Homo sapiens: one gene and its partners. The protein of the gene in region 1 purifies or fractionates together with the protein of each later gene. This does not show direct contact. Each region holds a gene or a part of one and is shown on either strand. Other genes may lie near its edges. The genes, in order: UBXN4, ODR4 and PPP1R7.

What was found.
Region 2: the proteins of UBXN4 (region 1) and ODR4 purify together in Homo sapiens (affinity purification with mass spectrometry, with the first as the bait; one large-scale study listed by BioGRID). This does not show direct contact.
Region 3: the proteins of UBXN4 (region 1) and PPP1R7 purify together in Homo sapiens (affinity purification with western blotting, with the first as the bait; one study listed by BioGRID). This does not show direct contact.

The regions. Positions count from the first base shown.
Region 1 is NC_000002.12:135,744,767-135,748,419, reverse strand, and holds part of UBXN4 (UBX domain-containing protein 4), read right to left. Parts: intron 154-3,653; coding exon 51-153; intron 1-50. UniProt on the Homo sapiens protein: Involved in endoplasmic reticulum-associated protein degradation (ERAD). Acts as a platform to recruit both UBQLN1 and VCP to the ER during ERAD.
Region 2 is NC_000001.11:186,392,806-186,396,458, reverse strand, and holds part of ODR4 (protein odr-4 homolog), read right to left. Parts: intron 2,513-3,653; coding exon 2,444-2,512; intron 1-2,443. UniProt on the Homo sapiens protein: May play a role in the trafficking of a subset of G-protein coupled receptors.
Region 3 is NC_000002.12:241,156,935-241,160,587, reverse strand, and holds part of PPP1R7 (protein phosphatase 1 regulatory subunit 7), read right to left. Parts: intron 2,782-3,653; coding exon 2,726-2,781; intron 2,105-2,725; coding exon 2,039-2,104; intron 1,376-2,038; coding exon 1,245-1,375; intron 257-1,244; coding exon 94-256; intron 1-93. UniProt on the Homo sapiens protein: Regulatory subunit of protein phosphatase 1.

The DNA of each region.
Region 1 (3,653 bases):
ACAATACTTATAAATTTTAAAATTAATAAAATATTAAAACATAAACAAACCTTTTGGTATCGATTTTAATAGCAACAAAACTGTTTGAAGATGCTTCTGTAACTTTATCATCTTCCCAACTTGCAGCCATCTGTGTAGACTGTTCATCATCACCTGTAAAACATTTCAAAAATTCTTATACCAGGCTGGGATCTGCTGATTGCAAACTCTTTTCCCCTGGAAAACGGAAACCTCAAATAAAATATAATCCCACCTATACCACTTTCTGCCAAATTTGAAAACTGAATTTTCCACTAAATGAAAAGTGTGACTGCATACACAGTTCACATCATGAAGAGCAATGAAAACAAACTACACTGGACTATTTAAATGATACAAAATATTTCATAAAAGAAGCCATCTAAATTATGATGCGCAAAGTACCACAATAATAAGCAGTCATCGGTGCAGTGCCTATTTGGGCTTTTGTACATAAGATTTTATTAAAATAAAAGTTGTGGGCTGGGCTCGGTGGCTCACGCCTATAATCTCAGCACTTTGGGAGGCTGAGGCGGGTAGATCACCTGAGGCCAGGAATTCGAGACCAGACTGGCCAACACGGTAAAACCCCATCTCTACTTAGCCAGGTGTGGTGGCGCATGCCTGTAATCCCACCTACATAGGAGGCTGAGGCAGGAGAATTGCTTGCACTCGGAAGGTGGAAGTTGCAGTGAGCGGAGATTGCACCACTGCACTCCAGCCTGGGTGACACAGTGAGACCGTCTAGAGAGAGAGAAAAATAAAAAGTTTGATATCTGTCCTTTATGTGGCACCTTTCTGTTGAGTTCAACATCTCCACTCCACAGCATTTATACTCCAAAATTAATCCAAGGTAGACAGAGGCAGGTACAATTCTGTTTGCAATTTTAGACTTGCCTTTTATTGTAGGTATGCTAATTATAAAAGGTATGCTAACCTATAACTAATCTATGGTGATAGAATTCAGTATAGTGGCTACCTTGATAGAGCATGAAGGAGCCTTCTGGAATGCTGAAAACGTTCTGTATCTTTTTTTTTTTTTTTTTTTTTTTTGAGATGGAGTTTCACTCTTGTCGCTCAGGTTGTAGTGCAATGGTGCAATCTTGGCTCATTGCAATCTCTGCCTCCCGGGTTCAAGCGATTCTCCTGCCTCAGCCTCCTGAGCAGCTGGAATTACAGGTGCCCGCCACCACGCCCAGCTAATTTTTTTGTATTTTTAGTAGAGATGGGGTTTCACTATGTTGGCCAGGACAATTTAATCCACTTTGGCCTTCCTCATTGCAGTTATTCGTTTATGGTAACTCCATCCTTCCAGTTCTCAGGCCAAAAAACTAGTTTTCCTTGATTGTAACTGACTCCAGCTCCAAAATAAATCAAGAATGTAACTTTCTTACCACTTCCACTACTAACTACCCTGATCCAAGCTATCACATCTCACCTGGAAGCCTAGTAAAAGCCTCCAAATTGGTCTTCCTGCTAAGTCTATTCTTAACACAGCAACTTTCTCTAAAAAAAAAAAGATCACATCAACCCTCTGCTTAGATCACACAATGGCTCCCCATTTTCCTCAAAGTAAAAGCCAAAGTCCTTACAGGGCGCTTGAAGGCCCCATACATCAGGACTCCAACTACCTCTGTGACCTCATTCCTTTTTCCTTTCTTGCTATTCTTTTTCCTTCTATTCCTCAAATATGAAAGACACTTCAGCCATAAGGTCTTTGTACTAGTTGTTTCCTCTGCCTGGAATGTTCTTCCCCCAGATAACTACATGGTTAACTTCCAACTCCCTTAAAACTTTGCTCAAATATCAGCTCAATAAAGCTGATACTTAATCACCCACTTTAATATTACAACTCTCCTACTCACTTACTTTAAAATTACACTCTTGAGACATTCCCAAAGCTCCCTTATCTCCTGTTGTTTTTCTGTATTACTTTCACCTTCCAATATACTATGCATTTTTAATTATGTTTACTAGTATCTGTCTCCCCTAACTAGAATGAAGGTTCCATGAAGGCAAGGATTGGTTCCATTTTATTTACTGACAAGACTAAAATCTCTACAAAACATAGTAGGCACCCAATAAGTACTCTGTGGAATAGCTAAATGCCTAATATAGTAAGTATGATGGCATGCCTATAATAATTGACTCTAATGCTGTTTATTTGCATATATTTTGTGAGATGAGATTCAGGAATACCAGAAATAGGAGTTTGAGAAATTTGACCATGGAAAAGTAAACGGGGTCGGGCACGGTGGCTCACTTTGTGAGGCTTAGGCGGACGGATCACGAGGTCAAGAGATCTAGATCATCCCGGCCAACACGGTGAAACCCCGTCTCTACTAAAAATACAAAAATTAGCTGTGCGTGGTGACACACACCTGTAGTCCCAGCTACTCAGGAGGCTGAGGCAGGAGAATCGCTTGAACCAGGGAAGTGGAGGTTGTAGTGAGCCGAGATTGCACCACTGTACTCCAGCCTGGCGGCAGAGTGAGACTCCATCTCAAAAAAAAAAAAAAAAAAAAAGTAAACGGGACTAGAATGCATCCACAGACCAAATGCTCCATTAAGAATGCTCCATTAGCAGACTCCTAGATGTTGAAGATGCAAAATAACGAGAAGTTACTATTTGCAAGTGAGATCACTCTAAATGCATCTTCAGAAACCATCTGATGAGGAGAGATTAAGATTCCAAATAAATGACTCACCTACCAAAGAAAAATAAGTATATGAGAATATTCTTACTACGAACCCTTCTCAGAGAAGGCTGTGAAGAATGAGAAATCCTTTCCATTCATTCTTTTATATGTTCACTATTTTATTGCATTTATTTTGTTCTAGGCATTGAACTGTATACTAAATATAAACCAAATGAGACATTGTCTGCCTTCAACAGAGCTTAAAATCTAATGGTATACAAAATTTTTAAACAAATAGACACTATACGTAATTACAGTAATAAATGCTACTAAAAAGAAATCTATGAGAGAAAATAACAAGAGAACTCTTTATAATGGTCAGAGAAGCCCTCTCTGAGGTGACAGTTAAGCTAAAATCTAAAGGATAAGAGAGCTCAGCCATGCCAACAGCCAGAAGAGTTCACCACGCAGAAGGAATACGTGTGTAGGGAAAGGCCTATGTGATTTGGAATGTTGTGAACAATCCGGAGCTCAAGAAGAGACTGAAGAGTTAAGAGTCAAAGATGACTCTCATATTTATGGTTTATCCAACCAGATGTATGGTAGTGCCAATCAGATGCAGAACACTGGGAGAAACACAGGTTTAGGCAGCACTTACACGTTTAGGCTTGAGAATCCTGGGAGGATCTAAACAGTGATATCACGTAAGTAGCTGAAAGTATAAATCTTGCTTCTTGTGAGGCTGGTGCATCACTCCCTCACCTATACTGTACCATGTGATTAGGGTCCCAGATGTCTCAACCCTACTGGCAGTGTCTGTCCTAGACTCAGCCTAGTGGTGGCAGCAGCTGCTTGAACAGCAGTGGTGGAAAGCTGAATGGAATTACTCAATGCTTAATGACAACTTTCCTAATACTACTGAGTGGGATGACTGATTGCTAACTCTGGTATCTTTCATTTCTTATTTTTAATCAAATTATCAACTATAAAGTTAGG
Region 2 (3,653 bases), on another chromosome or scaffold:
TTTTGTATTTTTTTGTAGAGACAGGGTTTCACTTGTTGCTCAGACTCATCTTGAACTCCTAGGCTCAAGCGATCACCCTGCCTAGGCCTCCCAAAGTGCTGGGATTACAGGCATGAGCTACCATGCTCAGCCAGGAAAAGTTTTAAAGAATGTAAGGTCTGACTCATTCCTTTTAGGTGGAAATGTAGACCAGTTGGGGTCTACAAATGTAAACTCCTCTTGGTTATTTGGACTTAGGAATAACCTGGCTGCCAAACAGCCTATAGGTGAGGGAACTTCTATGATGCTGACATGGCATTTGAAAAAGAGAAGATCCCCATTTCTATGGGAACCAAATGAAATCTTACACAAGTAGTGGCATTTGGGCTAGATCTTAATGTACAGATAGGATTTTGACAGTTTGGGTGACAGAGAAAAGAGCAAAGACATGATACATAGTTCAGGAAATACAGAGCTTTAAAGGTATGGCAAGCATACATCTAGAAAATAAGAGGTAGAAAATAAGAACAAAAAGGTATGCTGAGGCTATGAAGAACCCTGAGTTGGACTTCTCTAACTAGTCAGTACAGAACACTTAAGAAATTTTGAGCAAGGAGTACCATAATCAGTGTCCGGCTGTTGTACAAACTCAATAAATACTTCTTGAAAAAAATTAATAACTGAACATAAACTATGATTCAGAAATGATCATCTGAGTGTATAAACAGGATAGAGTAGATAAATGGAAAGTATTTCAAGAGATATACTAACAAAGGTAGAAGGGATTTAGAGAAACAATCACTTTGGACAAGAATGTATAGATGAAGAGAGACCAGTTAAGGGCTACTTGTGCTAGTTTAGGTAAAATAATACTGTTGTAAGGCTAATGACAGCAGGACTGTATGGAAAATAAAAGAAAAGCTTAATACTACAAATAAGGAATCAATAAGACTTAACTGGGAGAAAAGTGGCAATAAATACTTACTGACTACTTACTGTATATTAGTCACTTCAAAATTTCCAGTTAGGTGATCGGTGGAGTGACTACCAAAAATATATTATACTATATAATATTATTACTACACCTGGCCAGGCGCGGTGGCTCACGCCTGTAATCCCAGCACTTTGGGAGGCCGAGGCAGGCGGATCATATGGTCAGGAGATTGAGACCACCCTGGCTAACACAGTGAAACCCGTCTCTACTAAAAATACAAAAAATTAGCCAGGTGTGGTGGCAGGCGCCTGTAGTCCCAGCTACTCAGGAGGCTGAGGCAGGAGAATGGCGTGAACCCAGGAGGCAGAGCTTGCAGTGAGCCGAGATCGCACCACTGCACTCCAGCCTGGGAGACAGAGCGAGACTCCGTCTCAAAAATAACAATAATATTACTACTACAATAAATTATCTCATGAGATTATCTTCCACTCATCTCTCTATATTCCCACACTCTATACATCTCCCAACTACAATTTTATACTACTAATAAAATAATCTTAACCAAATTGTTTAATAAACCATGAAGTAAGCCTAACTAGTGAAAAGCACATAAGTAGTGGAATAGCCAGCCTCAAAACAAAGGACACTTCTAAAATCAAGACAAAGTAGAAAATCAGAGACTAAAATACCTCTAAGGTATTGAAAAATGAAATTGAGAACTCACATTGAGTGGCATAGGCCCAAAGACAATTTACTAATGCGCTATTGCTACACACAGAAAAAGAAGAAACTAAAACATCCTCAAATGCCAAATTGCTTTTAATTCTATTCTATTCAGTTCAAAAAAACACAAGTCCTGAGAGTATTTCTGTTTCAAAATCCAGTATAATATTGAAATAAAGTTTCCTACAAACACGCGTTTGCTATTTTATACCCTTGTCTGTTCTTTAGGATAATTTCAAGTAGGATTAAAATCAAAGGTATGTATTTTTAGGAATAATTAGTGGCTTTAACTTTTTATTCTTTAAGATATCCAACTTTTAAATTTTCGAAAAGACGTGTAAATTAAAGCAACCATACATAAATATAAAACTTGCTAATTAATACTTTGTGATTTTTATCAAATCAGGGGGTATAAATCTAATTAATCTACTTCAAAATAAGCATATGACAACTCTTTGCACCTCTGTGTACACATCTTTTAAGTTGTTAAAATTGCAACTTTAACTATAAAAGCTACAACCCAAAATATGTACACATACATACATGTATATGTATGCATGTATGTGTACATATTTTTTTAAACTGCTATCTATTGATGTTAAAATTTTAATATCCTTGAGGCAAAAAACCCAAACAGGTTTTATTAAAATGATGTTTCTTGGGAATAACCTTCCTATAACCAGCCATTTCATACAGTCTCTTACAGCTCTAAAATCCTTTTATTCTCTAATGAGAAAAATAAAAACAGAAACAGTTTCATTATGGTTATGCTAATAAATATTTTAAGTGTTATTTTAAAATATTTACCAACTGCGTTAGCACTCTGACATCAAAAGAATGACTAGTTGCTTGAGTATTTCCTCTAGAAGATTTTTTCTGAAAAAACACAAAAGTTAAAAAGCCAAACTGTGAAGCCTGTAAAACATAAAAGACAACTTATAAACTATTGTACATATACTAAGTAACTTAGAAAAAAACAAGTCTTTTAATTATTTTAATTTAGCTTTTTATATAGATATTACTTTATGTATTCTGTATCAATGTACACTCTTTAAAACAATTAATTCCATACTTTCATTCCTCTAAAGCAACAACTGGCAAACCACTGCCTGTGGGCAAATACCCACATTGCCACTCATCTTTGTAAATAAAGTTTTACCGGTATGCAACCAGGATCATTCACTTATGTATCTCCTGTAGCTGCTTTCATGCTACACAGTAGAGATAAAAATACAGCCTGTGAAATCTAAATATGTAGTATTTTTCTCTTCACATAAAGTTTGCTGATCCCTGCTTTAAAAAGTGAGAGATCACAAAAGTTCCGCTTCCTTCAGGTCAAAGCTATTTTAGAAGCCTCTATAAACCTCTTTTATAAAATGGCCATAGCTTTTGAACTGTCATCAGGGCAGAACAACATGTGGCCTTTGGTTGCAGGTCAGCAGTTTACAATTTGGAAATCAGATGAAATTCAGATGACACTCCTGTAAAGTTTCAGGATTCCAATTACATCATTTTCTTTTTTTTCCTGGACTTATTTTTTAACTTTTAAGTTCATGAGTACATGTGCAGATTTGTTACACAGATAAACTTCAGTCATGGGGGTTTGATATACGGATTATTTCATCACCCAGGTATTAAACCTAGTACCCATTATTTATTTTTCCTGATCCTCTCCTTCTCCCTCCTTTTAGTGTGTGTTTTTCCCCTCTATGTGTCCATGTGTTTTCATCATTTGGCTCCCACTTATAAGTCAGAACATACGGTATTTGGTTTTCTGTTCCTCTGTTAGTTTTCTTCTTTTCCTTTTCTTTTATTTTGAAATGGAGTCTTACTCTGTAGCCAAAGGCTGGAGTGCAGTGGCACGATCTCGGCTCAATGCAACCTCCACCTCCCAGGTTCAAGCCATTCTTCTGCCTCAGCACCCCGAGTAGCTTGTGCTTACAGGCACCTGCCACCACACCCGGCTAATTTTTGTTATTTTTAGTAGAGACAGGGTTTCACCATGCTGACCAGGCTG
Region 3 (3,653 bases), about 110 Mb from region 1:
CTCACCATGCATTCTACATACACCCACTGAGTCCACACACAGCCCGCTAGCTGCCTCTCCCTGAATATACTAGTCAGGGCTGTCTGCACCTACCCGGATGCGGTTAGATCCCAGCTCTAGCATCTGTAGTTGATGTAAGTTGCTTAAGTTCTCAATTTTACTGATTTTATTGTTGACCAAGAAGAGTTTTTTCAGTCGTGTCAACTTGTCAACCCCTTCGATGTTTCTCAGCAGATTAAAAGAAATATCTAGAATCCTGAGAACAACCAAAACAGTTTTTTAAAAAAATTTCACGAGCATAGGTTGCATAGAACTCACAATTTAACCACTAAAGGTGGCGTCCCCATCAGGGGACGGCAGTCACTACCGGGTGGGAGAGGGTGGGGGGTTCTGACTGTGCCCCTGCTGCCGCCTGGCTCACACTGATGCTGTCATGAGGGATTTGGAGGCTGCCCAGGAGCCCGGAGCAAGCCAGAGGCAGCCTACAGGCTCCTGATGCCCTGGCTCCCAGTATGGTATTTGAGGCAGAAACTATGTTTTGTTCACACTTGTGCCCATGACAGGACCTCACACCAGGCTCTGCACACAGAAGGGGCCTGAGAAGTATTGAATTAGAAACAGAAACAAAACAAGCAAAAATGAATGAGCGACAAAGGGCAGAAATCCAGGTAAAGTTATAACTAGGACCTGGCTCCTTCTTTTTTAATTTTAATTTTAATTTTTGTAGACAGGGTCTTGTTATGTTGCCCAGGCTATCTCGAACTTCTAGGCTCAAGTGATCCTCCCAATTTGGCCTCCCAAAGCACTGAGATTACAGGTATGCACCACTGCACCTGGCCTAGGACCTGACTCCTTAAATTAGAAATGTCACTTTTTTTTGTAATTAAAAAAAAGAGTATTCAAAAGGCAAGAGGCAATTCTGGATTAACTTTCCTCTCTACCGATCTCAGTATCATCCCTGAATGGAGGCTTTCCAGAAGTCCCCACTGCAGCCTTCCCATCAAAGATTTACTTTGGAAGTCAGGATTGTTCAGGAAGCCAAAGACATGCATGAAGCCGATGAGGCCTCCTGGAGCCCTGAAAACAGGAGGCAGAGACTTGGGATTCAGATGCAGGGCAGGACCCTGTGGCAGAGGCAGCCTCTCAAGGGCTAAGAGCCAGCAGGAGGTTGGCTCTGGAGACTGGACACCCCCCACCCAGTGGCCTTCCCACCATGCTGTTCTCCTGTGGGTCTCATGACTCACTCCAGCTCTGTTAGCGCCTCCAGATTCTCAATCTTCTTGATCTGGTTGTCGTAAAGATCCAGCTCTCGAAGACTCTGTAGCTCCTCCAGATTCTCAATGCATTTAATTAAATTTTGGCGGAGGCAGAGAGTCTGGGGGATGGGAAAAGGGACAATTGACACAGGCAAGGGGGAGGCCACGAGAAGGCCTCAGCTGATACTGGAGGACACAAGAAAGGCCTTTCTGGTAGAAGGACATGTCTTCATTCTCCTGCTGTTTCCTAGAAAGGTGCTGACCTTTGAGAGGCAGGTGGGCAAGGGCACTAAGCTATAATTCCTTAACACACCTGAGGAAGGGCGGGAACCCAAAGGGAGGCAGGAGGCAGGCTCCCCACCAAGCAGGCCAGTTGGGGAGGGAGGCGTTGGCCTGGGGTGTGGGTGTCTGCCACTTCCTGGCAGAACATAAGAACCTTTGGTGGGCTCAATTTTGACAAATTCCAATGAGAGGCACGGAGGACTGTAAAAGTCAGCGAGTGCCTAATTGAACACAGGCACAGAAACCGAGGCAGGCCAGAGTCACAGGTCACTGGCTGCCTGGGCTCAGGAGAGCCAGCCCCAGGGCTGTGCCTCAAGTCCCTCGACTGCTGTCTCACACCTGCTGTGCTCCCAGTAAAGAAAGGCCTGCTACAAGGTGGAGGCAGCCACGCCGCCCACAGGCTGGGACAAGGACCACAACTCAGGACTGACTGCTCGATTCTGGACTTATCCACATCCTATGGGTGAGCGTCATAGTCCCCTCATAAGAGTCCCTCTCACCTTCACTTTCTTCAGTACCTCAAATCCTTCAATCTTCCCTATGCGATAGTGATTCAAATCAACATCCTGAAACAAAGCAGAAATCTATACTCAGCTATAGCAAAGTGGCTGGAGACCTGTGTCGTCCTAGAAGAGGCGGCCTGGAAGTGGGCAGCAGTGGGGGAGGCAGTGCCAGGTGGGTCTGCAGCAGACAGATGTCAGTGACAAGGTGTGCTGCGGGGGCTCTTTGGCTTAGTGATGACTAAGTTTTATGTAAAACTGGCCCTTAAAATGATTGGTACATGACATCTTTTTCTCATTCCTTAGATCCTGTATGCACAAAACATAAGCTCAGGTTCTGAGGATATGCACCCCATCCCATCACCATCAGAGACACGCTGTGGGCTCAGGAGGCCCAGTGGCCAGTCATACACAGCCTGGGGCCATTGGGACCCTCATGTATAATGTAATCATCAGACCCAGACAATGTATGAGTCAAAGGCATCTCATCTGCCACACAATCCTCAAGGGTCGAATAGACATGGGGATAACAATCACTGGTAAGAAAAACATGAACACGGGACTCTGACTCAACCAAGGGAGGCTTAGGCCACCTCTCTAGGGAAATAACTTACTAATCTCATACAAGATAACCTGACAGGGTGGTCCATCACCACGCCCAAGGCTGGGCTGAGCAGGCGGCATTACCTCTGCATCTCTGTCCAGGTTGATGGTTTCCATGTCCACAGGCAGCTCATGTTCTTCTGAAAAAATAAGAAAAAGAGATTTGTTCAGAACCCCATTAACAGGAGGCACTGGTGAAGAGCTGCTTCTGGCTGAGGTCTGGGGCTGTTTGGTGCCCAGAGCCAGCTCAAACCCCGAGGAGGAACCAATGGGAAGGTTTGCTGAGGACCTGGAGAATGTGGCAGGGTTAGACCCTGCTCCAACAATAGTGATGTTTTAAGCATTCTGAATTTCCTGAATTCAGATATTGGCAAAGGTCACCAAACATCCATCTGTGCCTTTGAACTTCCTGAGAAAGGAAATGTGTTTTGAACCTGTTAGTGGGAAGGAGGGGAGGAAGTAGCTGAGTGCAGGTGAGCAGGGTAGCACTACTGCCTTTCCGTGACTCCCAGAGCTGCAGAACTGGCAGCAGCCTGCCTCCCATGTAGCTTTTCTCTTTTTGTTTGTGGCAATAAACCAGGCCATTAGAATCTAGACCATGCTGGGCACATCAGATGCTCTAGGATGGGCCTTTTATTGCTTTGGAAGGTGGCCCAGCATCTACAAACACTTCCCTCTGCAAAGAGCAAAACAAAACAAAACATAGTTCAACAGATAGGATCAAAGAAGCTCACTGAATAATTTAAACACACTTCTCAGTGGGGAGACTGGTGAACTCACTCCAGCAGAGAAGCCCATTGGATTTCACGAGGACTCTCTACCCCGGAGCCGGCATCCTCTGTGCGGAGGAGGGAGAGAGCTGCTCTCCCTGCTGAGGCGACAGCTTCCCTGTTAAGCACTTCCTCATTTCATTTCATTGGAACCTACTTCAGCATGTGTGCTGAAAAGGACTAAGACACACACAGATGCACACACACACGCATGCACAAAGACACACAGGCACGTATGCACA